Linked DNA regions of Homo sapiens. The protein of the gene in region 1 purifies or fractionates together with the protein of each later gene. This does not show direct contact. Each region holds a gene or a part of one and is shown in the gene's direction. Other genes may lie near its edges.

Region 1 (8,332 bases):
GGGTGGAAGAAAGAGGAGGAAGAGGCTGAAAAAAGTGCATCTTTGGCTCATAGGAGTTTGTGAGTTTCTCTTTTGATTTTGTTTTCTTTTGAGACAGAGTTTTGCTCTTGTTGCCCAGGGTGGAGTGCGATGGTACAGTCTTGGCTTACTGTAGCCTGGACCTCCCTGGGCTGAAGCGATCCTCCCACCTCAGCCTCCCAAGTAGCTGGAACCACAGGTGCCTGCCACCACACCCGGCTAATTTTTGTATTTTTTGTAGAGATGGAGTCTTGCTATGTTACAGCTCAGGCTAGTGTGGAACTCCCGGGCTCAAGCAGTCCTCCCAGCTCGGCCTCCCAAAGTGCTGGGATTACAGGCATGATTTTTCTTTTTTTTTTGAGACGGAGTCTCGCTCTGTTGCCCAGGCTGGAGTGCGGTGGCGCGATCTTGGCTCACTGCAAACTCCGCCTCCCGGGTTCAAGCAATTCTCCTGCCTCAGCCTCCTGAGTAGCTGGGACTACTGGCACACACCACCACGCCCAACTTTTTGTAATTTCAGTAGGGATGGGGTTTTGCCATGTTGGCCAAGATGGTCTCAATCTCTTGCCCTCATGATGTGCCTGCCTCGGCCTCCCAAGGTGCTAGGATTACAGGTATGAGCCACCACACCCGGCCAAATTTTAGACACGGGGTTTCACCATGTTGGCCAGGCTGGTCTCGAACTCCTGACCTCAAGTGATCCACTTGCCTTGGCTTCCCAAAGTGCTGGGATTACAGGCGTGAGCCACTGCGCCCGGCCAGGCGTGATTTTTAAAATTCTTATTAAGGACTCTCCCAGAACACCAGAGGCTCACGGGGCTCTGAGCATCCTGCTTGAGTCTCCATGGAGACGAAGCCTATGTCTCCTGGCCGACTCCACCAGCCCCAGTGCCACGCTGTGCCCGGCCAAGCCTCAGCTGAGTCTAAGCACCTGCGTCTGTGCTGGGCCGAGTGGCAGGATGTTGTGGGAGAACCCCTGACCCCTTGCCCAGCTCTGCTCGTCACCCAGTTCTGATGTTCTGTTCCATCTGGGGGTGGCCAGGAGGCTGCCAGTAACAGCAATGATGAATAGCCATTCACTGAGCTAAGCTCCCAGACACTCTGCTAAGCCCACATTTTAGTTCATGAGTCCACACCAGACCAGGGCCTTCACCATATCCTCTTTTTCTTTTTCTTTTTTTTTTTTTGAGATGGCGTCTCACTTGGTCGTTCAGGCTGGCGTGCAGTGGTGCGATCTCGGCTCACTGCAACCTCCACCTCCCAGGTTCAGGCGATTCTGCCTCAGCCTCCCAAGTAGCTGGGATTACAGGTGCATGCCACCACGCCCGGCTAATTGTGTATTTTTAGTAGAGATGGGGTTTTGCCACGCTGGCCAGGATGGTCTCGAACTCCTGACCTCAGATCATCTGCCAGCCTTGGCCTCCCCAAGTGCTGGGATTACAGGTGTGAGTCACCGTGCCCGGTCCCTCTCCTCTCTCTTTAGTCCTGCTTGGCAAATAAGGAAACTGGGGCTCAGCTGCCTGATGTGTGGGGAGATGGTATGGGATGGTGGGAAGTGTGTGTGCTCCAGAGTCTGGCTTCCTGGGTTTACATCCCAGCTCTCTTACCGTGTGGTCTTGCACCAGCCACTGGAGCTCTCTGGGCCTCAGTTCCCCCTCTAACGCGGGTGGACATTTCATACAAATGGCGTCACACGCTGTGTGGTCTTCTGTGTTTGACATCTTTCACCAAGCATGATGTGCTCAAGGTATGGCTTGGGTCAGAGCCTCATTTTTTTTTTCATGGCTGAGTCGTGTTCCATTGGCTGGATGGAGCACAAAATGTCCTCTAAAGCCAGGCATGGTGGCTCACACTTGTCATCCCAGCACTTTGAGAGGCTGAGGCGGGAGGATTGCTTGAGCCCAGAAGTTTGCGTACAGCCTGGACAACATAGCAAGACTCCATTTCTACAAAAAATTTAAAAATTAGCCAGGCATGGTGGCATGGACATCTGTGGTCCCAGCTACTCTGGAGGCTGAGGCAGGAGGATCGCTTGAGCCCAAGAGGTCAAGGCTGCAGCAAGCTATGATCATGCCACTGCACTCCAGCCTGGGTGACAGAGCGATACCCTGCCTTATAAATAAATAAATAAATAAAATTGTAAATTAGCCAGGTGTGGTGGTGGGAGCCTGTAATCCCAGCTACTCAGGAGGCTGAGGCATGAGAATCACTTGAACCCAGGAGGTGGAAGTTGCAGTGAGCCGAGATTGCACCACTGCACTCCAGCCTGGGCGACAGCAAGAGCCTGTCTCAAAAAATAAATAAAATAAGAATTAAAAATTAAATTTTAGGCTGGGCGCAGTAGCTCATGCCTGTAATCCCAGCACTTTGGGAGGCTGAGGTGGGCAGATCACCTAAGGTCAGGAGTTCGACACCAGCCTGGCCAACATGGTGAAACCCATCTCTACTAAAAATACAAAAATTAGCCAGGTGTGGTGGCACATGCCTGTAATCCCAGCTACACTGGAGACTGAGACAGGAGAATTGCTTGAACCCGGGAGGCAGAGGTTGCAGTGAGCCGAGATAATGCCACTGCACTCCAGCCTGGGTGACACAGCGAGACTCTGTCTCAATAATAAATAAATAAATAAATAAGTACGTTAATAAAATTTTACACTATTTGGGTGTGGTGGGGTGCAACTGTAATCCCAGCTACTCAGGTGGCTGAGGCAGGAGAATCATTTGAACCTGGTAGGTGGAGGTTGCAGTAAGCCAAGATCACACCATTGCACTTCAGCCTGGGCGACAGAGAGAGACTCCATCTCGAAAAAAATAAAAATAAAAATGAAAATAAAATTTTAAATGGGTGTAACTCTGTGGAGGGAAAAAGAAGGCTGAGAAAGGAGATAATGGTGACTGAGCGGTTTTAGATAAGGTAGATGGGGAAAGTGATGGGGAATTAAGGAATGAGCCACACATCATCTGGGGAGAGCACATCCCAGACAAAGGGTACAGCCCGTGCAAAGGCCCTGAGGCAGGACCGCACCTGACAAGTGAGAGGAACAGCGAGGAGGCCTGTGTAGCTGCAGCAGTGAGGAGGGGGAGAGAGGGAGCAGGGGAAGGTGGGGACAAGGCAGAACAGGACACGCAGAGCCTTGTGGGCCTCAAGAAGGACTTGGGCTTTAATTATGGGACATCTTTGGGAAGTGTTTTTTTTTTTTTTTTTTTTGAGACAAGATTTCATTCTGTCGCCTAGACCAGAGGCAGTGGTGCGATCCTGGTTCACTGCAGCTTTAATATCCCAGGGATCAACCGATGCTCCCACCGCAGCCTCCGAGTAGCTGGGACCAACGGTGCACACCAACCACTCCTGGCTGATTTTTTTTTTTTTTTTTCTCAAACAGAGTTTCACTCTTGTTGCCCAGGCTGGAGTGCAATGGCGCAATCTCGGCTCACTGCAATCTCCGCCTCCCGGGTTCAAGCGATTTTCCTGCCTCAGCCTCCTGAGTAGCTGGGATTACAGGCATGCACAACCATGCCTGGCTAATTTTTGTGTTTTTAGTAGAGACAGAGTTTTCTCCATGTTGATCAGGCTGGTCTCGAACTCCTGATCTCAGGTGATCCACCTGCCTCAGCCTCCCAAAGTGCTGGGATTACAGGTGTGAGCCATCGTGCCTGGCCTGTTTTCTTATTTTTTACAGCAATGGCGTCTCACTATGTTGCTCAGGCTGGTCTCCAACTCCTGGGCTCAAGTGGTCCTCCTGACTCTGCTTCTCAAAGTGCTGGGATTACAGGTGTGAGCCACCACGGCCAGCACGTATTATTATTTTTATTAATATTATTGATGAGTTTCATACGTAAAGGATCACGGGCACTTTAGAGCTGGGAGATACTTCAGTATTTCTCCTATCCTGTCATTATCAGTGCGAGCCAGTCTCCCTCCTTGTTGATGACATTATTGATGAGTTACATACTTAAAGGGCCAAGGACACTTTCTATGTGTAAGCACCCTATAGAACTGGAAGATACTTTTACCATTTCTCCTGTGCTGTCGTGATTAGTGGGAGCACTTTGTCTTGCTCTTGATTAATTATTATTAGTGTTGTTATTATTAGGTGTTTTTTTTTTTTTTTTTTACCAAGACGGAGTTTTGCTCTTGTTGCCCAGGCTGGAGTACAATGGCACAATCTTGGCTCACTGCAACCTCCGCCTCCTGGGTTCAAGTGATTATCCTGCCTCAGCCTCCCGAGTAGCTGGGATTACAGGCACCCCCCGCCACCGAGCCCAGCTAATTTTTGTATTCTTTAGTAGAGACGGGGTTTCACCGTGTTAGCCAGTCTGGTCTCGAACTCCTGACCTCAAGTGATCCACCCACCTCGGCCTCCCAAAGTGCTGAGATGACAGGCGTGAGCCACCGCGCCCAGCCATATTATTAGTGTTATTAATATTATTGATGAGTTACCTACTTTAAGGATCACGGGCGCTTTCAACGACAAGCCCCCTACATTATCCCAGCAACTTTTGACATTCTTCCGGCCGATGCCCTCCGCGGGAGCCGGCGGGGACCCCTGGGAAGCCGGCTAAGGCCCGTCCCGCCCGCAGCTCCGCCCTCGCCCACCCGTAGGCGGGGCCCGGGGCCTTCCGGCCTCAGTTTCCCCCCGCGGCCCGGGGATGCGGGGAGGCGCCGGCTGCCCCGCGCGGCGCGGCCGCCAGGGGCCGCTGCGGAGCCGCCTTTGTGGTCCCGATGCCGGGGCGGGCGCGGGCGGGAGGAGGGCGCGGGGGCCCGGGAGGGAGGCGGGAGGCGCGGCCGCCGCTCCAGCTGCGAGTCCGCCCGCCGCCCGCCGCCGCCGCCGCCGGCTCGGTCCCGCGCCCGCCATGGCCCGCCTGACGGAGAGCGAGGCGCGCCGGCAGCAGCAGCAGCTCCTGCAGCCGCGGCCCTCGCCCGTGGGCAGCAGCGGGCCCGAGCCCCCCGGGGGGCAGCCCGACGGCATGAAGGACCTGGACGCCATCAAACTCTTCGTGGGCCAGATCCCGCGGCACCTGGACGAGAAGGACCTCAAGCCGCTCTTCGAGCAGTTCGGCCGCATCTACGAGCTCACGGTGCTCAAAGACCCCTACACGGGGATGCACAAAGGTGGGCGCCCGGCCCCCTCCCCCCTCTCCCCCTCCCTCCGCCTCCCACCCCACCTTCCGGCATCTTCTCTCCCCCATCACCATCCCTCCTCTGCTCACCTCCCTCCTCTGCCTGCCTCTGCCGGAGCATCGGTTCTTACCCCCTCCCTCCCACCCACCCCTCCTCCCCTCTCTGGGGGTGCAGCTGACAGATCCGAGCGGGCCCCCTCCCCTCCTCCGCCCCCTCTCCCTCCCTCCCCACCTTCCGGCATCTCCTCTCTCTCTCCCTCTCTCTCTCCCTCTCTCTCTCCCTTTCTCTTCTCTCCCATCTCCCTCGACCTCTCATCCTTCCCCCCACAGCACCCTCTCTCTCCCTCCCTCCCTCCCTCACCCTTCCATCCCCCAGACCCCCACCCCTTCCTCCCTCCCTCACCCCACTCTTTCCTGCCCGTTTGCCAGGGGAGCCTCGGGAACGCCGGCACCCCTCCCTGCCCCCCCACCCCCATTCATTCAGCCTCCCCAGGCCCCGTCGGGGAAGTTTGCACCTGCGGACTCCATTGCTTTGGTTATTTTCACAAAGCCAGGCCGGCGGGGCAGGTCCGGCCGCGGGGGACACGGATGCCCAGGACCCCAGGCTAATCGGTAACTACAAAGGAAGACGGGTTGGGGGCGCCCGGCTCGGGGGGACGCGCCCGCCTCGCCTGCCTCGGGTGGCGGAGAGGCTCCCGTCGCTGCCCACCCCCTGGCCCCACCACCTCCGCGTGGATCAGCATTCTCTCCTCCATTTCTCTGCCCTCCCCCTCCCCCGCCTCCACCTTGGGCTCAAGTTGAAACTGGCCGAGCCTCTTAGCAATGTGTTGGGGTCTCAGGCCCAAGACAATGAGCTTGGACGTGTCCATCTGGGCAGAGCCCAAATTCTGGGGTGGACAGGGAGGAGGAGGGAGGCGTGGGCGGCCTCAGGCCTGTCTGCCTCCCTCCCACTGGATTCTCCCTCCGATGGCATCCCGGGTGGGGGTGTCCGGCAATTGTATCCCCAGCCCTTGGTTCCCATCATGGGCCCAGCGTCTGAATTGGGGTGGCTTTGACAGCCTTCCGGTCAGGTGTTGGGGACTGGGGGTGCCACTTCAAAGGCCTTGTGCTGGACACCCCCGGCCCTCCCCCTCCCATCCTCCAGGAAGACCCTGGAGAGGCCTTGGGGAAGGACCGGGGCCCATGACCTATTTTACACCCACTTTTTCCCCAGCGCTGCGTGCCCGGTAAGCATGAATGCATGTTTATTGAATGAATGAATTGAATGAATGAATGAATGAATGAATGAATGAATGAAGGGGTTCAAGAAGGCCCTAGGGAGGGTCTGGTGAGATGGGGCCCAGGCCTGTCACTTCAGCTAGACCCTCCAGCTGGTTATCTTGAGGGAGGAAAGAAACCCCTCCCCATTCCCCATCTCTTTTCAAAACCAACCATCACACACACACACACACACACACACACACACACACAAAATTGGGCCTGAAAAATCTAACTCCTCCATGTGGCCTAGGAGGGCAGAGGGGCTCCCATGCGGCCCCCATAAGTCAATATCTGGAGTCCAGAGGTGATAGGTGGGCTTTTCCCACACGCCCCCACCCCTGGGTACACCCAAAGCACCCATTTCTAGAAAGATTCCCGTGGGAATGGGGGAGTCCACATGGCCCCCCAAACGGTTGCATTGAAAGGCCGCTGGTTGAGCTCTAGGTCGGAGAGACAGGTGGGGGTGCAGGGACTGGAGCATCCTGGTGACTCTTCTTCATCTTTTTTTTTTTTTCCTTCTTATTTTTAAATCTCTGGGAAACCTGGGCACGGGAGAAGTGAGGGGTGAAGGAGGGGCTGGGGCTGGGTTTTCACCTGGCCCTGAGCCTCAGTTTCCCTGCTGTCAACAGAGCAGGACCATGACGCATCCCCAGTTCTTTTTTTACAGGTTGGAGAATGTTGGGGTCCCTGGGGTACCTCGGGGGTATTTCCCATTTGCGGGCTTTCCTTGGAGGGTGAGAATTGAGAAGCCGTGTGCACGACAGCCGGCAATCACCCTCCACTTTTTAGGGGTCCCAGGTCCGTCTGTGTGTGAGATACAGGGGCTTCACCTCGTGTCGAAAATGGGTCCAGTACCCTCGGGGAAGTGAATCCCCACCTGCGTGGGGCCTGGCTGGACTTCACCTGGTCTTTGCCTGCAGGTGCTTGGCACGAAGGGGTGGGGGGGTGTCTTCAGAATCAGCATCTGTGATCCAGGTTTGCGTTTGGGGCTCAGCTGTGTGACTTCTGGCTAGTGACTGCCCCTCTCTGGGCCCTCTCTGGGCCTTGGCTGAAGGGAGGTGGAATGGTGAATGGGAAGTCAGGATTTTTGGGGAGAGGAGTGAGTTCAGACACCTGCCACCAACATGACCTTATTAGGGCTGTTTCTGGGAGCCCTGGCGTGGTTTAGTGTGCCTGTTCAGAGTGGCAGGGCCTTGGGGATATGGACCCCAGGCCTGGAGAGAAATCCCTTTCCCTGGATGCCCGGCGGGGCCCATGAGACTGGGCACAGGAGATCTGTAAGGAGTAGAGTGGGGTGGGATGAGAACACCCTGGAGGTGCACCCGGCTCCTGGTACAAGCCCGGAGGGGGTCAGCTGGTACCACCTCTAGCCCTTCCTTGGTGTCCAGGCTGCAGGGACTTGTTTGATTTCCCCATGGAACCCATCGCCATGGAGGTGGGCTCCGAGTGACAGCGCATTTCTGGGAAACTGAGGGCTTGAGAGACATACCCTGGGTCCCACATTTACCGGAGCTAGGCCCCCATTACCCCCCCTGCCTTCCTCCCAGGCCAGGAGAAGCAGCTGTGCCTGTATCTGTGTGACATAGGGGTGACAGGTTCCCCAAAGCCAAGAGTGAGGCCCCCAGAGATGGTGCTGGGGATGGAGGGGCCCGTGACACCTGACAGCCACAGCTGGCCTGGCCGAAGGTGGCGTGGGGGCAGCCAGATTCCTAGAGGCCGTGCTGAGACTCAGAGAAAGGCAGGAGGCCTCATCCAGGAGCGGGGCAGGGGTAGGGGGAGAGGGATGCGTCGAGGTGGTCTTCCGAAAGAGGGCAGGCCCTGGGGCGCTGGGTTTGTTTTTAAGAGAGAGAGAGAGAGAGAGATGAGGACACAGAGAGAGAGAGAGAGACACGCAGGGAAAGAGAGACAGAGAGACCCACAGAGAGACAGAGAC
Region 2 (8,016 bases), on another chromosome or scaffold:
GGCTCCTGTAGTCCCAGCTACTCGGGAGGCTGAGGCAGGAGAATGGCGTGAACCCGGGAGGCAGAGCTTGCAGTGAGCCAAGATCTCGCCACTGCAACCCAGCCTGGGCGACAGAGCGAGACTCCGTCTCAAAAAAAAAAAAAAAAAAAAAAAGAGTCTATGTTGCAGGAAACCCTTGGTCCTGATCAACCAAACAGTTGATTACCCTAGGTAAGACTGGGATTTGGTGGTTTATAGTAGTTCAGGGAGGAAACCACTCAGAGATGAGAGTAGATCTAGTAGAAAGTGCTTTGAACTGTGAAATATCTGAGTTTGAATCCTGGCTGTACCACTGACCATCTTTGACATCTTAGGCAGATCATTTCCCCTCTCTGATTCTGCGGAGAGTTTTGTGTCTTCTGGTACAGCTAGGCCTTTGGCTTGTCTCCTCCACTTAGCAGCCCTTTCATGTGATTACACAACAAAAGTTGAGAGAGTGAAGCCTGTGTGCCAGCATAGGAATTAGGTGCTGGAGATCACACTGAAGGCACATGGTTCCTGCCTTCCCTGATGCCATCTGTGCCATCTGTGTTACTGCAGCCATGGTGGAGTCTTTTCAGTAGCAAACTCTAGAACTTTTCTGCCTGGAGAGTCCACATTCATTGCTCTTAAAATTTGAGAGCAGCCTCTCTTTCTAGATGGTAGACTTGAGTTCTCTACAGGATAGCCTTTTAGACTAAGAGAACCAGATCTTTCTTGACCCTTCATATTTTGAAAGCTGCTAGTCCTACTCTTAAGTCTCATTCTCATTTTCCCATTTTGGAGTTCCAGCTCTGTCCCTCACAAGCAGTGTAAGTGTCAGCAAGTGAGTTAACATCTTTGGGCCTTAGTTTATTTGTGAAATAGGGATGACTATGATTCCCACCTCATGAGTTAGGAGGATTAAATGAGATCATTCCTATTAGCACAGTATCTGCCACGTAGTAAACAATAAATGGAATAAAACGATTGCATTTTCCACATGTCTTGGAGAGCACTGGAGGCCAGCTCCTCTTCACCCTTTGCCCAGACTTGAGCATCTCAGAGAGAGGAGCCACCTTTCATTGTATTCATCTCTGTGTCTACAGCCAGCCCCTGCCTGGTGAATAGTAGATGCTTAATAGTATTGATTTATGACCTGAAGATGGTGATGGTGATGATGATGTAACCTGTCTGCCAGGATTAAGGAGGGTAAAATAAGAAAATGTATGTGAAACTACACTTTTGTGAATGGAAAAACAACACTGTGTACGTCCCTCCACTAAGGTATTTATCACAGTGTACTGTTCTTTGTTTGCCTATCTTTTCCACTCATAGTCCATGTGCTTCTCCAAAGTGGAGACTACATCTTATCTCTAGTCCTGCTCCAGCCCCTGTCTGATAGCCTACACAAAGTAGGCACTCAGGTAGTTTAATTGAATGCAAATGGCATACAAAGGCAAAGAATTGTAAAGCTATTATTAGGATAGGGAAAGAGGGCTGGTAAATACGACTGGTCCTTCCTTCCTTCCTGGTGCTACTTTTACACAAAACTGTTTCTGAAATAAACCTCTTCCTAGGGGAATGATGAAATTGGCTGAGAGAAAAGGTCAGGGTCAGGAATAACAGTTTCATTATCTGAGCAACTGGACATAGAGGCTGGCACTTGGGCACATTGTCACAAATCTTTGTGTTGGGATTAATGCCACTAACCTGTAGTGTTGGGGTTCCATCTCTGATCATTATCAGCTAAAAATCTTCAAAATGTTTGTCATGCTTCAGGTGCCCTGGCTGCAGAGTTGTGCCAACTTGGTGCAGATTGGGGCACCTCTCCCACTACTGGGCTGTTTGGGCCAGTATTTTGAGGTTCTGGGAAGTATGGAAGTACTGGCTGGGCAATATGGGATGGTAAGAAGTACCTCAGTGAGGTCCTTGCTGCTCTAATTTCTCAGAGAGTCTTTTCTCAGAAGCTTCTCTTTTGCATCCTCAGTAGCTCAAGTGAATATGCCAGTGTGTAGGCTCATTGTTAATAACAGCTCCTCATGTTGTGGAGGAAGGGCCCCTGCAAAGTCACGTTTTGAGACTGGTGCTTGAAACCACCTCTTCTTGGTCTTGGGGAGAAGGCTTGGCTGATGAGCTAGCATTATCAGAGATATGTTTATAATAGGCCCAATTTGATGTGTCCTGAGCCTTGGGTGTAGGCACCCTGGGAATTTCAGGGGCCTACCCCCCTCCTTTTTTTTTTTTTTGCGTGGATCCGAGTCTGGCTTGTTCTTCCTCTCTGGGAGCATGGCACTGAGTTTCAGCACGTAGTTGGCCCCATTTCCCTATGGGTGAGGAAGCTAACATCAGGAAAGTTTGAATATTGAGCTACAGTATTTGCTGTTATTTGCTGCAATGCGGAAACCCAAAGGCCAAGTTTCCAGAGAGTCTGCTGGGGATGTTGACTTGGTGCTGGTCAGAGTGGAAGCTGAAGCACATACTATTTTATAATAAATACTAATGAAATCCTAGATCTATAATAGCATTTCGGATATCTAAAACAAACCATGTGCTTGTAAAAAAGTGGAAAGAGATCAACTTTAAGCCATAAATTCTTGGTAATAGAGGGTTTTTTTCTATTAATGTTTGATAGATATTTTTATTTCCAGAGGAATGTCAACTCCTAATTTCATAATGTATCATGGGCTTAAGAAAATTGAATTTAATAAAAAGCCAAAGATGAATGGCATCCTTAAAGGTCCCAACACTTGTCTTTATTAGCAGGACAAACTGTAGGTCTCCAAACACTGCTGCTCTCCAAATGAAAGTTTAAATGAAAAGTACAGTTGTGTCACAGGTTAAATTTCATTGTGGGCCCAGCTAACATTGTTAGTGAGGAGCTGGCTGTATTTGTTTCCTTAGACACCAGGGCAGCCATACTCACCAGGCTATAGAGCTCTTTCTGTTGAGGAAGTGTTTCTTCTACTTAGGGGAAGAGGAAGGACACATCGGAAAAATCAGGAGTCAGATGAGCCTGATTCATGGGCAACACCTCAGAGTTGGCTCTTGGAATCCTGGATACCTGATTTTGCAGGGGGACCAATGTGTATTTTTTTGGTGTGTGTTCGATTTTGTTATTCAGTTCCAAACCCCCATTTACTCTGTATGTAATGCTTCTTGGGGAACAGAAGGTCCAGGGAATTGGGAAATGAGTGTCCCCCTCTCTTCACCTTGGAAGGAGAGGTATTACCTGGTCTAAGCAGCAGTCTGGGCCTCCCTTCTCTCCCCTCTGCCTCAGCCTTGCAGCCATTTTGCCCTTTCTATCTCTGGGAATAAGCTCCTGTCAGCTTCCTCATCTTTGGAGATCAGCCCACGGAGACAAGGCAACCACAATCTTTGAATCTCTCTGGCATGAAGTCTGACTGACTTGATTTGGTTTTCGGTCCTGATGTGTTGGATTGAAATAGATGCTTTAAAAACAAGCCCAATATTAGTGGGTATGTTTTGCCGGGAGGATACCTGGCTTTCCTGGGACATCAAGGAGATTGACCATTTCTCCTTGTGTTTTCCCACCCATCAATTTCCTAAGTGCAGTCAGGTGTCATCCGTTTCGTGTTGCTTCTCCAGGCTGTCTCTGGAGAGAACCACTTTACCTTGATTTTAATGATACTGGAAAGGTCTTCTCCAGAATGAAGGACCTGGGGAAGGGGTGCTGCTGGAGCTGACTATTAGGGTCACTGAATAGGCAGAGCCCCCTTCCTTTCTCTCTGCAGTGGAGGCCCTTTCCACATGCTAATTTTACTCAGAGAATTTTGCTTTTATTTATTTTTTTTATTATTTCCTATTTGTCTCTTCCAGATGTTTTCAGGGCAGTTTTTTTTTGTGTTGTAAACTAATTCCATTCATGTTTTAAAAATTTATGAAAGCGCTAATAAAAATGTCAAAGTGGTAAAAATGTTAGCTTTTCCTCTGCTTTGATTAAATTTTGCAAACTGTTTTTGAATATTAAAAAGCAATAATTTTTTTTATTCTCTCTCCTCGCTTTCCCTCTTCTCTCTGGTACGCACGTGCTCTCTTCTGCCCTCTCCCCACTCTGGTGCGTTCCTCCCTTCCCAGGAGCGATGTATGAGGCGTGCTGCACAGCCAGCGTTCTGCAAGCCTGTTTGCACACCAGGACCTTGGTGCTGTGCATCTCTATTAAATAGCGGAGACAAATTAATCTTAGAGACACCAAACAAATTGTCACTCCTTGTCCTTCTCTTCCATTATGTTTCAGTGGACTGGGAAAGGCTAGCTAAGCGATTGGGCTGGCGTTGTAGAGGTAGTGTGTGCTGCCTGAAAGGTGGGAGGCGCTAGCTCCTATTACTGTTACTCTTTTCTCCTTCTCTTTGGGATCCCCTTTGGCTTTATTTTTTATCTTTTTTTGAAAAATAAGAACTAATGAAGAAACTTACCAGCTTGGTTCAAACTTCATACAAGGAAATCTATGCATTGGTCTGATGGCTGGTTGTCTATATGGCAGGAGATCAGACCCATTTCAGGACAGGGACCTGGGCAAGAGAAAGAAGGGCGTATTCTTAGGGGCTCAAGTTAGCAAGCCTCTGCTAGAGAACCAGTTGGAGAAACTGGGGCAGATGATACCACTGTCTTCCTTCCCATTTCCAGAAACAATGGGGATGAGGGCTGTGTTCAGTCCCTGGAACCTATGAGGATATTAGCAGTGGGAAGGTTAGGATTGTAACTGCTGGTGCCGTCTCACTCAATCTTGGGTTTGGCCTGGCAGGAGCTAATGAACCCAAAACACTAATGAATCCAAAACACTCATTCTTTGTTGACTTGGAGCTACTGTTGGAAATGGTTGATTACAATAACTTATTTTTCCTTTTCTGTATCTTTGGCACTCCAGGAAATCATCGAGTTCCCCATCCTAAAGCTAAATGGCCGGACCATGGAGATTGAGTCTACCTTTCACATGTATGTCCAGCCTGTAGTCCATCCACAGCTTACCCCATTCTGTACAGAGGTAAGGGCCCTGGAAGTGGGCAGCAGGGGCTGCTGGGAGGGGAATTTTGGAATCCTTGGTGCTCTATATAGGCCACTTAGAGAAAGCATAGGGCTTATCAATCCTTAAGGCAAGTGCACACTAGACCTAGCAGTTAGGTTTTATGAAGTCTGCCACTCCACTCAGGTCACTGTTGTTACTGGGGACCCAGGGAGAGCAGTGGCTTAGTCTACCCCTGCTTCCCCAGCATCCCTTCCTGGTGACCGGCACTTGGAGACCAGGAGCAGAATGGCATTTCTGGGGTTCAAGTTCTTTCCAGTTCAGTTTTCCTTAGGGCCCCTTGGCAAGAGGTAAAGATTTCAGCCACTTGGAAGGCAGGGTTATGTTCAGGCCTTCTTAGCTTTCTGGCATTGTTACTCTGTCCTCCTGTAAAGTGGTCCTGTGTGAAGCGTAGGTTGAGTTTGTCGAAGGTACATTCTGTCACCGAGGGAAGAGAAGAGTGGTCTCAGTGAAGCATGAGACCTGGCTGGCCAAGGCTGAAATCTGCTTATCCTAGGTGGGTACTGTACTTGGCCTCCTTGTCAGCAGGTTAGTATTGGTTGCATTTTACAGATTGTGAAACTGGGCCTAACTGAGATTTTAATGATTGCTGGAGGCTCAAAAGAGCCATTGGCAGAGGGGAGGAGCCCCTGCAAGTTCTAACTCCCAGAACTGTGTGAAGTCTTCTGTGGCTACTTTTCCCTGTGACATGTCATGTAATGCACTCAGTGGTGGCCAACAGGCTGTGGTGCAATCAGGGGTTAAGAATGTGTGGTAGCAGGGGTGATGAGAATCTTTTAAGAGTCTGGGGCTGAGGTACATTAGAGACTTTGTGCCTTCATTTAGAGACCTATCTTCTACATGTGAATGAAATAGGTGAAAAAGGGTTCTTGAGTTATCCCAAACAGTCTCCTTGGTAAGAAGGCTGGGGATGAGCCTGTTTGACCCTGGTGGGCCCTGAGGCTGACTTAGCCCAGACAGGAGGTCTCGAGGTTGCTCCTGAATTCGATGCCAGTGTTTGCCAGCTGACCCAGGTGGGGCTTTTGTTGCAGGCATCCATCTGCCAAGGCGCCTAGCCTCTTAAGCCTTTTGTTATTCCAACTAATGATGTTGGGTTCTGGTTTTCGCCTTCCTCTGCCGGGGTTTCCCCTTTCCCCTGGGATTTACCTATACCACCAGGGGGCGCTAATCTGACTTTTCTGCCCTTTTTGAAAAATCACCATTTTAATGATGATGAAAATTCCCTTGCTTATGCGAAGGGAAGGAAAGACTTTCTTTAAGCCAGCCAGTTACCTGAGCCCTCCACTGGCCTTGAAAGGCTAATGTCCTCTTGTCCTTACGTAGACAGGCAGGCCCAAATTTTAGTAAGTTTGCTACCTGTTTAGGAATGTAACAGTATTCTGCTGGAGCTGGACCCTGGGCAGGAGTGGATGCTTGAGAGTATCGGAAGAAGAGGGACTTCTTTTAGAGTAAGGCTGCTGCTGCTACTTTTTGTGGGAATGGGAGGAGGGATTGTGAGACTATGATGAACAGTTTCTTCTCTCTAGAAAGCTTCACCCAAGGATGCACATACATAATTTGGAGGGGAGTAGGAGTGGTAGTTGGGATCTTTATTATGAAGGCTGTTCTAAAAGTGAAAATGTGGTTGTTCTGTAGGCACCGGGTCTGCCATTTTGTCTCAGGTTTCCAGAGCTCAAAACTCGCCATGATCTTGTCCATCCTTTTTTGGCCAGCCTCATATCTCTCTGCTTCATCTCCCACCTAGCTCCCCTCACCCAGAGGTTGCCCTCTTACAGTCTGTCTTTTCACATGATGGTCCTCCTGCCTGCACAGAGTTCCCACTCTCCCCGCCAACTCCTGCTTGACCTCCAGGACTCTGCTTAGGGTCACTTTCCCTGATCCCCAGATTGAGTTGTGCTTATTCCAACATAGAACTGATCAGATACTTTATACTATAATTATTTATCTGTCTTTTCACTAGACTATAAGTTCTTTGAGGGAAGAAACTAGACCTGATCCATCTCCATCCCATCATTAGGGTCTGCTACCAAGTAAACACTTGATACGTGTCCCTTAAATGAATGAATATTGTCAAGGAGTTATTTTCTGTCTCTCCCAAAAACAACTGTACTGCTGACTTGTTATTTTGAGTAAGTAAGTAAAGTCTTGTTTGGAAAACCTCAGATCATATATATTTTGCCCTGTCTCCATACCAGATGGAATTGTATCTCCGAGAGGCATAGACACAGGATGGGGGCTGTCATTCTGAAACCTCATCCAACCTGGCAGTTGGTGCCTTTTGCGGGTGGGGATGGAGGTCATTCCAACCAGAGAAAATCTCTCATTAGTAAGTGTGAGGAACAGTCCCAAACCTCCAGATTATACTTAAGTAGTTCCTCTGGCAGGATTTTCTCTCTTGTGCACAAGAAGTTCTTAACCCCAGTGTGTGTGTGTGTGTGTGTGTGCACGCACATGCGTATGACATGTGCACACACATGGGCACATGCTTGGGGAGAGAAGCAGGCTCAGTGCTGGACAGTAGGAAGAAGGATTCCAGTTTGAACAAGTCTCTAGCACACACAGAGAGACTCCTACTTTTACTGCTTCATATTAGGAATGTGTTAGTACCCTTCTTGAGGTCCCTTCTTAGTTTCAGTTGAGAGTCGGCCTGGAGACGTGGTTCTGACAGAGATAGGATGGGATGTGTTTCATTCCTTCCCGAGCCCTTTCCCTTTGACCTCTAGAATCTGCTCCAGTTCATCAAGTCTCTATCTCTAGCAGCTGGGCTGCTGCACAGTCCCTAACCATGTCTTCTTTTTGTTGTTGTTATCATGAAAAAAAAACTAGAGAAATACTCATTTTGCTAAGTGCCAGTAAAGGGCTTTGTCTTGCACCTGTACTTATAAAGGGTGAGATTTATTGGTCTCTTTGTCTGAAGAGAAAGAGTGGGTCTGATTATCAGATTGCACACCAGAGACAAGTGCTTATGTAATCAA
Region 3 (8,016 bases), on another chromosome or scaffold:
CATATCTGTGCCAAGAAAGAACCCAGTGTGCAGCTACAGCTTGCATGGCATCATCAAAAACAGTTTAGAACCCAAGCATACACATTTCGTTTTATTTGTAGAAAACTGTGGTCTGTCTGCCCAGCTCTGTTCATTGTGCCTAAAGATATGAACTCAGATGAGGTCAGAAAAGGGTATCTGAGATAATTCAGATGACGAAGGAGTAGAGTTGCTATTTGTACACAGCTATTGTGGAAACAGCAGCTCTGCCCTCAGGGTATTCATGATTTCATTGCTGGTATACTGTACCCATGAAAGCAAGCCCGGTTACCGGATGTTTCTCTTAGGAAGGAAATAACCTCCCATTTACCAAAAAGCTATTTCAGAATTTGTTATTTAATGTACTTAGATTTTTTTCATATTTTGTGAAGATTTTTATGCCAATAATTAGTATTTGCTAAGTGAAGACGTTTAATATCAAATGAAAAGAAACTGGCTTTGTTAAAAACTATTCTTTTTATAATGGACAGATAAAACATTTTTAACTTAAATGAAATGTCGTGTTAAAGACATACACTTTGTATGAGAAAAACAGCTGCATGTATTGATTATAAAATTATTTTAGAGAAAATGAAAATTAAAGTGAAATATCCATACATACTCTCACTATCTTTGCTAATAATTATCTTCTTGGTGTGTTCCCCTTTTTTTCTAAATAGTTTCTTTTTGGAGGCATAATTATAATACAGTTATGTAGACTTCTCGTGCCTTCATTCCACTTAACATATATTTCTGTGTTGCTTATATAGTGTTTATAATTTTTAATTGTTGCATCATCTTTCAGTGAGTAGCTAAATCACTGAAAGTAATAATTTATTTACCATTTCCCTTCTGTGGCATAAATGTTATTTAATTTTTTTTAGCATAAATAATTCTGGGGTGAACTTGGTGCATTTAACCTTTTTCATATTTTGGACTATTTTCGTAAGATACATTACAAGATATGGTATCATCTAGGTCAAAGGATTTCAACATTTGTCTCTTCCTAGTTTTGCCAATATACTTTCCAGAATTTGTACCATTTTACTCTCTCTTCTCAGCATTGTATAAGAGTACTGGTTTCACTTCATCCCTCCCACCATTATAGAAAGATCTTTCTCCCTGCATAAAGTGCATTTTAAATTGCATTTTTTATCACTGGCAAGACCAAACATGTTTTTCATATGTATGCTATACTCTGTATTCTTAAGGTTACTTTGTGGTTTTGTTTTACATTTAGATGTTTATTTGATTTTAAAACTTAATTTTTGTTCTTCTAATCTGTAAACTTGAAATTAAGGTTTATTTTCTGACTGTTAAAAAAATGAATATTGAGAGGACCTATGATTGAATTTATGATATCACAAAGGACATAAGCTGAGTAAGATGAACTTATTCACTAGTATACTGATATGAGGGGAGACCTCTCAAAGCATGGGCAAATTAAATTTGGGGCACAGGTGGGCAGCATACTGGTAAAATGTTTTAGCGTCTGTACATAGCCTCGACTGCAAATGTCAACAGTCATGAGTGGGTTAGGAGGGCGGGCGCCTAAGGTGTTTGGAAGACGCCTCGTACAGCATTGAGGCCAATGTGGAAGAGGTCAACTCTCATGCTCCACACCAAGACACCGCCCCCCAAGCTTGTCAGACACTTACGTCAGAATCAATAGGGATTGGAGGTGTCCTTTTCGGACACTTGGAATTATGATTTATCCAACTATTAGTCACCTTGGGCCCTGTGTTCTTTGTCTTGTTAAATCATTATAGAAAGAAAAAGATGACAAGTGGAAAAGAGGGAGCGAACCAGTTCCAGAAAAAAAATTGGAACCTGTTGTTTTTGAGAAGGTGAAAATGGTAAGTTGGGAAGTATTTGCACTGTATGGACAGCCTCAGGTATGTGTATATTTGTGAAAGGGAAAGTAGGAGGTCTCGTGGTGAGTACCATTGCACCATCACAGCTGGGGCTAAAGGGTTCTGCATCTGGATTGGACTGCCTGCTATCATTTCTGCTCTCTCGTTACCAGTTGCTGCCTAAATCTGCTCTGTAAGGGCTTCGCTTTGGGGCCAGATGAGAACTCAGGAAATGCATCTGTTCCATCTAAGCAAGAGGCACATTCCAAGCCAGAATGCCAAGGCTGAGGGACACCATCTGAGCAGATGCTATTTCCACATTAGTCCTTCTCTTGTTAGACCTTCTGTATCCCATTTTCTGATTTCAATGAAGAACAGTCCAGAAGTGAGGCCATATTAGTCCATTTTAAGTGATCCCTTCTTATGTTCTTGCTTTGTCATGTTGAAACAGACACCCTTCTTTTTCCACAGGACATATTGTGGCTGTAGTAGTAGAATCTCTAACATAAAAACTTGGAATCTTGGGAGAGAGGACTTTACTTACTATTGCTTAAGGAAGAGTCTTTTATCATCGTTCTGAATCACATTGTCTGTGGACACAATCACTAGTGATACTGGCAGAGTGAATTAGGTAATCTTTAAACCAACCTCCCTTTTGGTGTTAAAGTAAAAGGTTTTCTAACCACTGGGAGATTTGTTGGCTCTTGGCTCTTGTACCATCAGATACCTACCTTTATTCTTGGCTTTTCCTGGGACCAAAAACTGCTGCTTCTGTTGGATCCCCTGTTCTGTGGTTGTCTTGGTTTCAGAAAGATCTGTCTCTTTAGGACACCAGACAATCACAGGCGATATCTTTGTTTTTCATTTTAGGTTTGGTTTATGCACTTCTGCCTCCTGACTTGATTCTTTCACCTAATACTTCCTGAGTTTTGTTTCTTTGGTAACTCTCTTTGAATAACAGCAGCCCTACCCACAAGAACACCGTGGCTTTACAGTGGAGATGGGAAAAGAGTTCAAAACCACCTGCTTATTTCTTGCTATAACATATTTTCACCTTAGCCACAGAAAAAAGAAGACCCACAGCTACCTCGGAAAAGCTCCCCGAAATCCACAGCGCCTGTCATGGATTTGTTGGGCCTTGGTAAGAGTTGGACTTTTCAGCTTCCATGTTCTTACAAATTTTGATAAATTCTCAGTGACCCTGGAAGATAGGTAGAGATGGGGTTCTCCAGTTTTGTCTTCATTGCCAAGACTGTTCTCTCACATTCTTCCTGATCTGTTTTACATCTGAGCAGTTGCTCTAAGGAAGTGTTTACTGTGACACTTTTCAGAGCGACAGTGTGGTGTAGTGGTTAAGAGCATGGCCTTTGGAGCCAGTGTCGCTCTGTGTTACTTACTGTCTGTGTGACCATGGGTAGTTTACTTAACCTCTGAATGTTGCTTTCATAATCCGTGCAGTGAGAATGAGTCTCTACTTCAAAGGTGTTGTTGGAAGGATTAAATGAGATAATGCCTCTAAAGCTCTTAGCCCCATGCCTGGCACATACTGAGCCCTCCATAAATGTTAGCAGTTTTGCTAAACAGCACCTTTGAGCCTCATGTCAATTCCCTGTACTCCACTCCCTGCCCCCATTCCTTTCATTTTTCAGATGCAACCTGTTTCTGAGATGGCCTGTGGTCATTTTTCTCCAAACCTTTGAAATCCTGAACTAGTGATTCTGCCCTTTCAGAAAGAAAGCCTGTTGTCTGCCTTTCACAGCACTGATGGTTGCACTTTGTTTCCATCCGCTTCTGCTGATTGAGGTTATTGGCTACTTAGGCTTCTAATTTCTGTACCTTTCCTTGCTCTCTGAAAATGAACCCTCCTCCATACCTTGCCCTTCAAATAGCCAGAAGGGAGCCAGCCAGCCCCCCACTGTGGTGCTGAAATACCCTTCAGGCCTGGGCGTCTGCTGCCCTGTGCCTGATAGCTGGGCTACAGGCTTCCCCAGAGCACTCTGGGAATGTGGGGTGAAGCCTCTTTTGAGAAGCCCCGTCCATGCTAGATGGTTCCAGAAGTCTAGATTTCTAGGTCCATGAGCTTATGGGCCACCTTTGCTTTTTGTCTAGAATAGAAGGAAGGCATGGGCTTAATAAGCAGTGCTGCATCTTAACTTCGATCTCTCTTTCTAGATGCTCCTGTGGCCTGCTCCATTGCAAATAGTAAGACCAGCAATACCCTAGAGAAGGATTTAGATCTGTTGGCCTCTGTTCCATCCCCTTCTTCTTCCGGTTCCAGAAAGGTGAGTCTTGTGGGCTCCTCAGGATTAAAGAACATTCTGAAATGGGTGATTTTGATATCTTAATCATGGAACCACGTCATGCTTCCTTGGTGGAGTTGGACTTTGGTTTTCTTGATTCTTCATTCTTCCCTTAACATTGTGTCATTTCTGTCACAGTCTAAGATTGCTGTTCATGCCTTTTTTTCTCCTGCTCAAAAAGGGTGGGCCATTTGAGTTGCTTCTCTGGAAAGTGTGTGATACTGTGAAGGCTGATACTTGAGGCTAGCTCCTCGGCCTGAGTTACTGCCAGAAAATTGTAGGTAGGAAAGACTTGAAACCTTTAATGGCTACCATTCGTGAAACGCCTGCTATGTCTCAGGCACAGTGTGAGGTGGTTTTTGTATATCATTTTGTATATTTCATTAATAATTTCACTCCTTCACCACAAACCTGCAAAGTGGAAATTTTACAGATGTGGAGACATTAGTTTGTAAAAGTTATGTGACTAGCCTGTGGTTATACTAGTAAATGGCTACACTGGGGTCTAAACTCAGTTCCCTCTGCTGCATCATTTGTGGGTTGTTTTGTTTGTTTGTTCCTACCAAATCACATGTTTTGGTGAAAGGAAAGAATTGTAACAGAGCTTAATTATCAGGTGTGTTCAGATAGTTGAATGGTAAAAATGTTAGGAAGCTATTAACTTGAGCCATGAATTCTTATTGCAGATGTTAGGAGCAGCAGAGAGGGAAGGGAGACCCTTAAAGAGACCCCCATGAGAACCATTTCAATTCTCCCCCCGCCCTCTTTGCCCTAAGGTTGTAGGTTCCATGCCAACTGCAGGGAGTGCCGGCTCTGTTCCTGAAAATCTGAACCTGTTTCCGGAGCCAGGGAGCAAATCAGAAGAAATAGGCAAGAAACAGCTCTCTAAAGACTCCATTCTTTCACTGTATGGATCCCAGACGCCTCAAATGCCTACTCAAGGTAGATTTCATGGGTGTCATGGCCATGTGCCAGGTAGAGACATGAGGGCTTCCATGCAGGAATTATTTATTGTGACAGAGGACAGTTGCTTTGGGGGCCAGGATGTCATACACCAAACAAACCTGAACATGACCAACGTATCAGCAGATGGAAATTAATGTAACTCAGAGTCATACTTCTGTGGAGTCTGGGGTCACAATTCGGTGAAGTCTAGCTCAAGGTCTGGATCTGGACCCTAAAGGGAAAATGGCTCGGTCAGCAGCCCATTGGTAAGCTATAGCAGGCCTCGTAGGGACTCTAACTACTTTGCTGTGTAAAGAGCATTGTGAGTAGAGTAATCCTGAGAAATTCCAGCTGGAAAGGGTTAGCCAGGGAGAGTTCGGGCTGACTTTATGTTTTTCCCTCTTTAACCAACCTGTATGTGTGTTTTCTTGGCAGCAATGTTCATGGCTCCCGCTCAGATGGCATATCCCACAGCCTACCCCAGCTTCCCCGGGGTTACACCTCCTAACAGCATAATGGGGAGCATGATGCCTCCACCAGTAGGCATGGTTGCTCAGCCAGGAGCTTCTGGGATGGTTGCCCCCATGGCCATGCCTGCAGGCTATATGGGTGGCATGCAGGCATCAATGATGGGTGTGCCGAATGGAATGATGACCACCCAGCAGGCTGGCTACATGGCAGGCATGGCAGCTATGCCCCAGACTGTGTATGGGGTCCAGCCAGCTCAGCAGCTGCAATGGAACCTTACTCAGGTAAGCTACCCCATTTTACTTGCAGCAAGAGTTTTGAGCCTTCCTCAAGTTTTTCTCGGTTTGTACCTCTCCACTATCCTTTGAATCCTTTCCATGTAGATGAGATAATGTAAGAGACATTGTTAGGTTTGCTTTTTTTTTTTTTTTTTTTCCTAGAAGGTCTGTCTAAAGTCAGACTTTCTGAGGAGTTCTGGGCTCCTGTAGAATAAGCCCAACTGCCTAAATCTGAATCTCTCCACACATTCTCAAAAGCAAAAACAAACACACAAAGAAACCCTGTACAAACAATGAATGCAGATATTCTCACAACAATCTCATTTGGTAGACAGAATACTGCAAGGTTCAAATGGCATGGCAATGGGCATATAAACACCAAATCCAGCGGAGCCAGCATCACAGAGGAGACTGTAAAAAGAGAAGATGGAGCAGGGGCCTAGCAATAATACCACAGATAAAGTAACCCCCCAGAAGGAGAAGGACCTACCCTCATCAAAGACATACTGAGAACAGGTCTGAGATGTGGTAGATTAGAACTCTGTTTACTTGGAGGATCAAAAATAAGAGACTTCAGATATATAGGAGTATAGGTAGTAACCTTGGGAAAGCATTGCTTCTCGGGGAGATGGGCATGGCCTAAAAGGAGGAGGTACCCTTTAGAGGACTGGTGGTGAAGGAAAGAAAGACACGAGAAATGGGAATGAGAATCACAAAATCAAATATACACCTTCTTCCCTCTTCCAAAATAACCACTTCACTAATAAAAGATGGTGCTCTTAATCTAAGAAATTTAGTAAGCCTCCCCAAACCTTCACACCTATTATTGCTGATTGAGAAAAAATAAGACCTTACAAAAATGAACCAAACATGGAAGCTGACATTTGTACACAACTACTACAGGAAGAAAATAGAAAATGAAAATCAAAACATTTCACGTAATGAATATTCTCCCTCAAAAAACAGTCATGAAGCAGAAGAAAATTGTTACACAATCTACCAATCTGAATTAAATGTCCTTAAACATTTGCAGATAAGACAAAACACCTTAAATCAGAAATTCAAAAACTTAAAGCCAAAATGGATAAAAAACTGCATGCTGTGAAATGAAAGTTTACTAAACTCAGAAAAGAAATTGAAGAAAAAGCCAAAATTTTCGTATAAAGACTCAATTACAAGTTAGCTAAAGAACAATAGATTGAGCTGAAAATATATTCGGCATTGAGGAAAGGCATGAAACAGCTAAGAGAATGAAAACTAAATATAGAAAGTAGTAAAAAGAATTAGATGGAAATTAATATGGAAGTTAGGCAAAGAAAACTTACATATATTTGGAGATGCCCAAAGAAATAAAGACAAAATAAATAAAATATGGGACAGTATTAATGTGTTTAACACCAGAAAACATTCTAGAAATAAAAGACTTGGATATAATATGGAAAGAGCCCACTGTGTGTCTGGGAAAATTGACCCAGAACAGTCAACTTTAAAACATATCCCAGCAAATCTACAGACTTTAAAGAACATTCAAAATGTTTAGGGGTCCAACCTTTTCCATACCTCCTACCCACAAAAATCTGTTACTTAGAACAAACAAAAAATACCCAGGTTGACATCAGACTTCCTAGCAGCAAAATACAAAAAGAATAACAAGGAGAGTAGTATTTTAAAGACACTCAAGTGTATGCAAGACACAACAAGTATTTTACAACCAAGCCAGCCAAGCTATCCTTCAGGTATCAAGGCTGTAAAAAATAAATATGCAAGAACTCAGAGAATATCACACTTACAAGACTTTCCTGGGGAATCTAACAGAAGATAAGCTTCATCCACCTAAGAGATGACTGGGGTCATTTTCATTTTTGGCAAAAGAACTGATGGTGAGAATTGAATGTTTAATTGAGAATCTAAGACTAAAACAAAGGTGGTGACAAGCGTTGCAGAATATACATTATATTCTGACAAACAAATACAACTGAAAATGAAGGAGGAGGGAGAAAAGTTGAATAATAAATATTGTATGGGAAAGAAGTAGAAATCGAAGGATGCAATAAGCTGACAAACCAAATCACGGAAGCTTGAATAAGGAAAAAGGAGACCAAGGACATTGCTAAAAAGTATTACTATGAAGGTAATCACTAGAACAAACACGTG
Region 4 (8,016 bases), on another chromosome or scaffold:
GTGGGGTTGGAAACCACAGCTAAAAATGCACTGACACTAAATGACAATGCACAACAGAACAGTTCACTGAAAGACAATAGACAGCACCGTTAGAACCACAAGAACTTGAGATAATGGCATGGAAATCTGAAAACCATAGACTTTCTCAGTGAAGTGAAAATGGCTACCAGGAAGTTAGGTTCCTTTGCTTGTTCTTGCATTATTAGGTGCAGACGGGTGACATCAGCCATGCTTCATTATTGTACTTACAAAAATCAATTCTGAAATGATTACATATTTTTATCACTTTGATTCATCCTAGAATGAACCAACATTTTATACATCTGATGGTGTTCCTTTCACTGCAGCTGATCCAGGTATGTTGTCTCACAGTCATTCCCTCCTCCCAGTTGTTTGGTAAAGTAGTAAATTTACAGAAAACCACATCCTCACCAGCACAAGATTGTAACTTTTTGATGTCTTCACATCATTCTAAAATACCAGTGTAATGGTTTGTCTAATATAGAATGCTCTTCATAGTGACCACTTGAAACATTTCAAATGAAAGTATGATTCCACATATAATGTCTTGTCACTTAACAACAGAGGATGGGAAGAATTCTCAATTAAATGCAACTATTTTAATTTTATATTTCCTCTAACTTTTTTATAATCTTAAATTTTCAGGTGATTAGAATGGAGGGGAAAGACGATTCTAGTTCACTGCATAGTCAGCAACATATATTAATATGGGTTAATACTTTACACGAAGAATTACACATTTCATTCATACTTGGTGTGTGACAGTTAATTAAAATCCAAATCTCTGCACATTTCCTCTTCCAGAAGAGGACCATTTATAGAAAGATTGCCTTAATTGTATTAGATGGAACTGTAGAGTGAGGAAGAGAAATTTTTCCCTTTGGTACAAACTGCAACCAGCTTATGGTTGGAATTTTTCCATTTGTTTCCTCTGGATTCCAAGCATTGACTGTCCTGTGTCTCTAGCACAGAGAAGTTTTTTTAGGGCAAGGAAGTAGAATTAAGTTACACGCTATGGGCATCTTAAACTTCACTAAATGTTACTAAATTGTTTTCTAGCATGATTATGCCACTTAATCTTCCCATCAGCAGCACATGAGGGTTCCTGCTCCTCATCTTTGGCAATACTTTTTATTAAACTTAATTTTTGTCCATCAGATTGTATGAAATTCTATCTTGCTGATATTTTATTTCCCTGACAAGTGATATTGAAGTTTTCTTGTTCTTGTTGACCTTTTTGATTTCTTTCTTTGAGAATTGCCTGCTAATACTCTTTGTTCATATTTCTGTTGGATCATTTGTCTGTCTTACTGATCTGTAATTCCTTTTGTAGTCTAGAACAAAGTGATTCTTAGCTGAGGGTTTTGGTTACCTTCTTTCTCTCAGTATTTGCCTGTCTTTGCATTTTGTTTATAATGTCATGTAGAACCTTTGAGTTTTAATGTGAACAAAATTTATCAGTCTTGTTTGTAATTTCTGTGGTTTAAGAAAGTTTCCTTACCATTTCTGTTTTCTTCTAAAAATCATTGTTCTTTTTTATTTTTAGGTCTTTAATCTACCAGTGCAATTTTTATATAGGATGATATCATAGGAATTATCTTTTCCATTGCCTGTTGTCTCAACAATTGGTATTAAGCCATCCTTCCTTTCCTAGTTATAATAAGCCCCCTTTGTTGTATACTATGTAACTCTTCTATCAAATTGTGTCTTATTCCTGTGTTTGTGTGAATCTTTTTTTCTGTTAATCTCTTTCTATGCCAATACTACACTTAAATTATTTTTACCTTACTGTGAATCTTGCTATGTCTGGTAAGACAAATCTTTCCTCTTATTCTTAAAAATTACCTTGATTTATTTTGATTATTTGTTTTTTATTTTTTCTAACCTGTTTAATTGTTTCTAGTACTGTTCGATTTACAGAAATTCAGTTTGGTTGTTCAGTTTCTTTTCAAGGAAAAGAAGTAATGTAGACAGCCAGTAGATCTCAGTTTCTTTTTCTTAAACGTTTTTTAATCTGCTATACTTCATGAAAGTAAAAGAAATCTTACAGTTTTACAGAAAAATCAAGCTAAATTTTGTTTCTGCATTTTGTTCAAATAATCTTGACCTTTTCTCAGAGTTTCAAGTTATTTTTTCTCATCATTCTAAACATGCTTACTTCTGTCTTATATTTTTGTTTTATCTCTTAATTATAACCCTTCTGTTATTTCTGATCATCACACATAAAATTTTTGCCTTAACCGTCTTAAACTTTTATTTGGAAATGATTTCAAACTTACAGAAAAGTTACAAAAGTAAAATTGTACAAGGAATACCTTTTACCCAGGTGTACTTTTTGTTAACAGTTACTTGCTTTATCATTTGTGCTCTTTCCACACACTTTTCTTTTTTTCTCTTTTTTTTTTTTTTTTTTTTTGAGACAGAGTCTCACTCTGTTACCCAGGCTGGGGTGCGGTGATGCAACCTCGGCTTACTGCAACCTCCACCTCCTGAGTTCAAGCAATTCTCCTGCCTCAGCCTCCCAAGTAGCTGGGATTACAGGCCTGTGCCACCACGCCTGGCTAATTTTGTATTTTTTTTTTTTTTTTATTGAGACAGGGTTTCACCATGTTGGTCAGGCTGGTCTTGACTTCCTGACCTTGTCCACACACTTTTTTTTTTTTTCTTAAACCATTTGAAGTTTCATATTAATATGACCCTGATTAAATGCTTCAGTGCTTTGTCTTTTTTCTTTTTTCTTTTTTCATTTTTTTTTTAATGAAAAACACTGTGGCTTGGATTATAGGAACCTCTGTCCAAAATGGTTTATATTTCCTTCTGCCAGGAGCCACAGAGTAGGTATCACTGACTTGGACAAATTTTTTGTTTTCTTGTCATAGGGGTTCTTTATGTGGGTAGTAGGAATTTGAGGTGCAGGCCCATTGTTAAAAATTCTCTGGGGCACCAATTTCTACAAAGTGCTCTGTCCCTATTCCAAACCCAGGCAGACATGACCAAGCTTCCTGCTATCTCGCAGGGAAGATAAAATACCACTGAGATATTTCTTGGTCTTTTTTCCTGATTCACCTTTTGTTTAAGATACCAGACCTTTGAGGGTCCCAGGTTTGTGCAGGTGAGGTTGGGCATGGAGCATGGATTTCATTTTCCTGTTTCACATGGGGCCCAAGACCTTGCTTTCTGGCTTTCTGTGGGTTTTAAAATCCAAGCCCCTTAGTTACCGAGACCAACATCATCTGTCAGCCTCCCAGCTGCAGCAGCTGCAGTTTATATATGGCTTTCAGTTCCTTCTTCATTTGTGACCTGATGACTTGGATTTTCTTTTTTGTGAACTTATCCATACATTTAAAAGAATGCCTGTCTTTTTGTAGCAGGAAGGTTTTACTGTTAAAACGGTCTCTAAATTGTCAAAATTGGGTATCAAAATGTCCCCAGCCCTTGAAGCTGGAGTTACGGTTTTATACAGACTGACACAGTCTTGGAAGAACATGGCTTTTACCCAGTCTAATATAATTGCAAAATTTCCGTTGGCTTCTGTTCATAAGAAACTATAAGGTAACTAGTCTTAATATATACTGATTCATTTTTTTATTCAGAGGTTAGGACTTCATAAAGAAATACTTAACTTAAAAGGTACCCAATAACTCTTCCTAAGACAATTGGCAGATAGGTGTAATATCACCTGTATTACCTTGGAGGACCCAATGAAAGGAAAGTTGGCAGAGCTGAAACGTTTACCAGGTAGCTGCCTTCCCCATCTCTCTGGGAAGAAAGGGAAGGAAAATCCCCCATTGTTAAAACTTTTGGTAGGTTAACTTCATCTGAGGAACAGAGACCAATTGTTGTTACCTGCTTTCTTTACTTCCTTGTGGAGGAGTACAGAGGGAGCTGGAAACCAGTAGTATTTGATTAATATCTTTCCAATGGAAGGACTGTTCTTCCCCAACAGTTATATAACCATTATTTTGTCTGATGGAAAGCAGCAGTAGAGGATATAAACACATTGGCTATGAATGTACATCACCTACAGTGGCTTTGATTTCCAACTTATATCTATAGTACTATATGTAATTACTTTAAGATTTCTGAGCATGCAGGGGGGCAAAAGTCATAATATTAAAAAACATTTAGGGGTGATTGGTCATTTCATGTGATATTTTTTCAGTATTTAGTTTTTCTCCTATGTTGTCTTACAGATTACCAAGAGAAATACCAAGAATTACTTGAAAGAGAGGACTTTTTTCCAGATTATGAAGAAAATGGAACAGATTTATCCGGGGCTGGTGATCCGTAAGTTTTCTTCAGTTACTAACTTCGTGAAATTTCTGTGTCTAATTTATAGGTGGAGATTAGACAAAGTAGCTCATGAAGGAATGGTGTTTGGGGCCAGGCGCAGTGGCTCGTGCCTGTAATCCCAACACTTTGGGAGGCTGAGGAGGGCAGATCACTTGAGGCCAAGAGTTCAAGACCAGCCTGGCCAACATGGCGAAACCCTGTCTCTACTAAAAGTACAAAAATTAGCCAGGATCACAGAATCACAGCTACTCGGGAGGCTGAGGCACAAGAATTGCTTGAACTTGGAAGGCAGAGGTTGCAGTGAGCCGAGATCGTGCCACTGCACTCCAGCTTGGGAGACATAACTAGATTCTGTCTCAAAAAAAAAAAAGGCATTTTGATTTGATGGTGCTATGTGGTAGTGTTTATGTACTAAAAATTTTCAGAAAATTGTATTAACTCACAGACTAGTTCTGAAAAATGTATAGTTGAGGAAAATAACCATTAAAATATAGTATACTTAAGCATAATTATTTTTTTAAAATAGATTCTATTGTATTTAGACTTTAAGAAGCTCTAAAACTTACTGTAAGATCTTGGGCAACTTCTGTTCTGCTTCTCCATCTATAAAATAAGAATAGTAGTACCTGTTGAGTCTTTTTTTTTTTTTTCTTGAGAACTACATGAGAATACATAAATACTTAGCCTTCCGGCACACAGTAGAAGGCTCAAATCTTAGCTATTAAAGGGTAAGTTAAGAGTAAAGAAAACAGATTACTATGTAAAAATGTTTGAACTGATAAGAAGATGTTAATTATAGGACTGTTTATATATCTGTTTCTTCACCTGCCACTCTTTGTAATTAAAGATCCCTTTAAACATATTACTCACTTACCATCAGAGTGCACTACATTTTCTTATAGAAGGACCAGGAAATTGTGAGGTTTAGTACCAATTCTGTTAACAACTTGTGTATATTTGGACAGGCTACTTAGTTTCTTTTCTTCCTAAGTAGGAGATGGGAGGGAATAAATTATATCTTGAACTTATTTTTTTTTTAATATCTCCTGTGTTGTAGATTTTTTTAAAAAAGTGAACCACTTTTATTCTAGTGATATTTTAATTATGTGTCGGTTTGAGATCTAGAAATACAATTGTTGCTGTACTTCTATATTCTAGTTTAATAGAAAACAAAAAAAATACAGGGATTTAAGGACCCAGGCAGAACTAGGAAAGTTCCATCTACTTGGGTATACCGCTGGAAGATAAAGTTGTTCTTGGCATTGAACTTCAGGTTATCCTCTTAAGTTTATTTGGTAAGCATCATATTCTCTTGCCCTAATGAGCTCATGGTTATTTCAACACATGGCCCTGTATTGGAAATGGGGAAGAAACAGAAAAGGACTCATCAGCAGTTGGTAGGGTTGGCAAGATTGTTTTTTCATGCTTGTAGGTGGAAGGGATTGGATTATTGGAGGGGTGGGGAAGATGTTGATAGAATCATGTTATGGAGGAAAAGGGGTAAGACCTGGAGTCAAATTCTGGCCCCGCCACACACTTAAAATTTTACATTGTTCATTTAACCTTCCAGAATCTCTTTATTTTCCATCTCCAAAATGAAGATGATCGTAATGCATATCTTTTTAAGATGGCTATGGACATTCAGTAAGAATGTGTAGATTAAATCCTTAATTGACACTTTAAATCTTTCCCGCCATACTTAACTATGGGAAGCCTTGCTTTCCACCATTTTAAACTACCTAATAGTTGGAAAAAAATCTGGAATAGATGATCTCAAAAGTAGCTTCCTGTGAAAATCTGATTCCAAATAAATGGGAATGTGACTAAATTGTCATCATGGGAATAACCCAGCAGAAATCATAGCAGGAATAGCACTTTCTGTTATTAAGTAGACACAAAATATTAGTGCATCACTAGAGGTGAATGGCATATTTGAAATTATGTTCTATTAATAGTTATATTCTAATTGTTTGTTGGTAAGGTAAATTTATTAATATCGATCTTGAGCCCCAAGTTTATATGTCAAGCCTTTGATTAACTTTCAGGTTATAGAATTTAACTTATGTCTAAAAGTATATATATTCTTTACTATAATTTCACACACAAGGGACTCAGAATCTGTAAAATTTTACTTACCAAATTAAGCATTTGGTTGTCCGAAGACTGCCATTAATGTAATTCTAAAGTTAGGCTTGTGTTCTATTATAAGTCAGTCTAGGAAAGTTGTATTACATTATTTTTTTCATGATTTAGCATCTTACTTTCTGAGTTGAAAAACCTTACACTTATGAATCATCTTTGCTTTTACAGATACTTGGATGATATTGATGATGAGATGGACCCAGAGATAGAAGAAGCTTATGAAAAGTTTTGTTTGGAATCAGAGCGTAAGCGAAAACAGTAAAGTTAAATTTCAGCATATCAGTTTTATAAAGCAGTTTAGGTATGGTGATTTAGCAGAACACAAGAGAGCAAGAAAATGTCACATCTATACCAAATTAAGGATGTTGAGTTATGTTACTAATGTATGCAACTTTAATTTTGTTTAACACTATCTGCCAAAATAAACTTTATTCCCTATAACTTAAAATGTGTATATATATATAATAGTTTATTATGTACAGTTAATTCTACTGTTTTGGCTGCAATAAAATCGATTTTGAAATAAATGAAATGTTGAAAATTTTGCTAGTTGGTTAGATGCTTATCCTTTAAATTCTACTTTTCTTGAGGGGAAAAAGTCTTCTTCTGGAAATACATATTACTGCAAAAATGTAGCATCCTTTTTTAGGTAGGAGTATTATAGCTTTCATTTTAGTTTGACATTTAGTGTCCCAATGAATTGAATTTCAAATATGAATCATAATCTTGAAAATCTTTAGCACTAAAGTCTTGGAATATATCAACAACTGATTTACATATGCAGATGCTATTTGATACCAAGGGCTTTTTAAATGTCATGGGGGGGAAAAACCCAACTTGGTGAACTCCCAGCTAAACAACCAAGACTTCACTGAAGATTTATTCCAATTCTAGAATTGTTCTTTTTTATTTTTATTTTTTCAACTGACTAACTTCATTACCTTAAAGGCTAGAACATTATTCTGCTTTATTTATATGGCTTTCTCACTTTTATTTTGTAGCATGGGTTGCATCGACTTTTTTACTAGAGAATTTTACTAGATATTTGTCATTCAAGTTTTCATCTGCTTTATAATTGATACACCTTGAGGGTCACTTTTCTAATACTTTTACTATAATGTGGTACCACCTCAGCCCTAATAAATAATATTTTTACCTAATGTCAAATCTTTTTCCAGCTAACTAAAAACTGTGTACAAAAGGATTGCTTGTAAATATGCATGTAAATAGTTCTGTTAATAACCCACTGTTTTACATTTGGTACATCTGTGTCTGCTAATACAGTTAGCTTTCTCACTTTTCTGCTTGTTTGTTCAGTCTGAATTAAAATTAGACTTTGAAAATAAAGCTTAAATAGTTGTTTCCTCTAAATTTTTGAAGTAGCATCTGGTATTTTAAATAATTTGCTGTTGAACTTAAATGACATAATTAATTTACTTAATGGTTTGAAATCAAAGAAATCATATTAGAAGATATTTTATTCATTCTCTGAATAAGAATTCAGTAACAAGTCTACCTTGAAAAACTAGCAAATATAAAACATTAAAACTTTAAAATTCC

What was found.
Region 2: the proteins of CELF5 (region 1) and ERI3 purify together in Homo sapiens (affinity purification with mass spectrometry; 2 studies listed by BioGRID and IntAct, with this or other methods). This does not show direct contact.
Region 3: the proteins of CELF5 (region 1) and SMAP2 purify together in Homo sapiens (affinity purification with mass spectrometry; 2 studies listed by BioGRID and IntAct, with this or other methods). This does not show direct contact.
Region 4: the proteins of CELF5 (region 1) and PAIP1 purify together in Homo sapiens (affinity purification with mass spectrometry; 2 studies listed by BioGRID and IntAct, with this or other methods). This does not show direct contact.

What each region holds. Positions count from the first base shown.
Region 1 is NC_000019.10:3,219,868-3,228,199, forward strand, and holds the start of CELF5 (CUGBP Elav-like family member 5), read left to right. Parts: upstream 1-4,793; 5' UTR 4,794-4,872; coding exon 4,873-5,131; intron 5,132-5,410; exon of another isoform or gene 5,411-5,751; intron 5,752-8,332. UniProt on the Homo sapiens protein: RNA-binding protein implicated in the regulation of pre-mRNA alternative splicing. Mediates exon inclusion and/or exclusion in pre-mRNA that are subject to tissue-specific and developmentally regulated alternative splicing.
Region 2 is NC_000001.11:44,316,614-44,324,629, reverse strand, and holds part of ERI3 (ERI1 exoribonuclease 3), read left to right. Parts: intron 1-4,885; coding exon 4,886-5,002; intron 5,003-8,016.
Region 3 is NC_000001.11:40,411,229-40,419,244, forward strand, and holds part of SMAP2 (stromal membrane-associated protein 2), read left to right. Parts: intron 1-1,787; coding exon 1,788-1,874; intron 1,875-2,930; coding exon 2,931-3,012; intron 3,013-4,043; coding exon 4,044-4,153; intron 4,154-4,947; coding exon 4,948-5,113; intron 5,114-5,551; coding exon 5,552-5,868; intron 5,869-8,016.
Region 4 is NC_000005.10:43,526,078-43,534,093, reverse strand, and holds the end of PAIP1 (polyadenylate-binding protein-interacting protein 1), read left to right. Parts: intron 1-301; coding exon 302-356; intron 357-4,214; coding exon 4,215-4,308; intron 4,309-6,624; coding exon 6,625-6,718; 3' UTR 6,719-7,827; downstream 7,828-8,016. UniProt on the Homo sapiens protein: Acts as a coactivator in the regulation of translation initiation of poly(A)-containing mRNAs. Its stimulatory activity on translation is mediated via its action on PABPC1. Competes with PAIP2 for binding to PABPC1.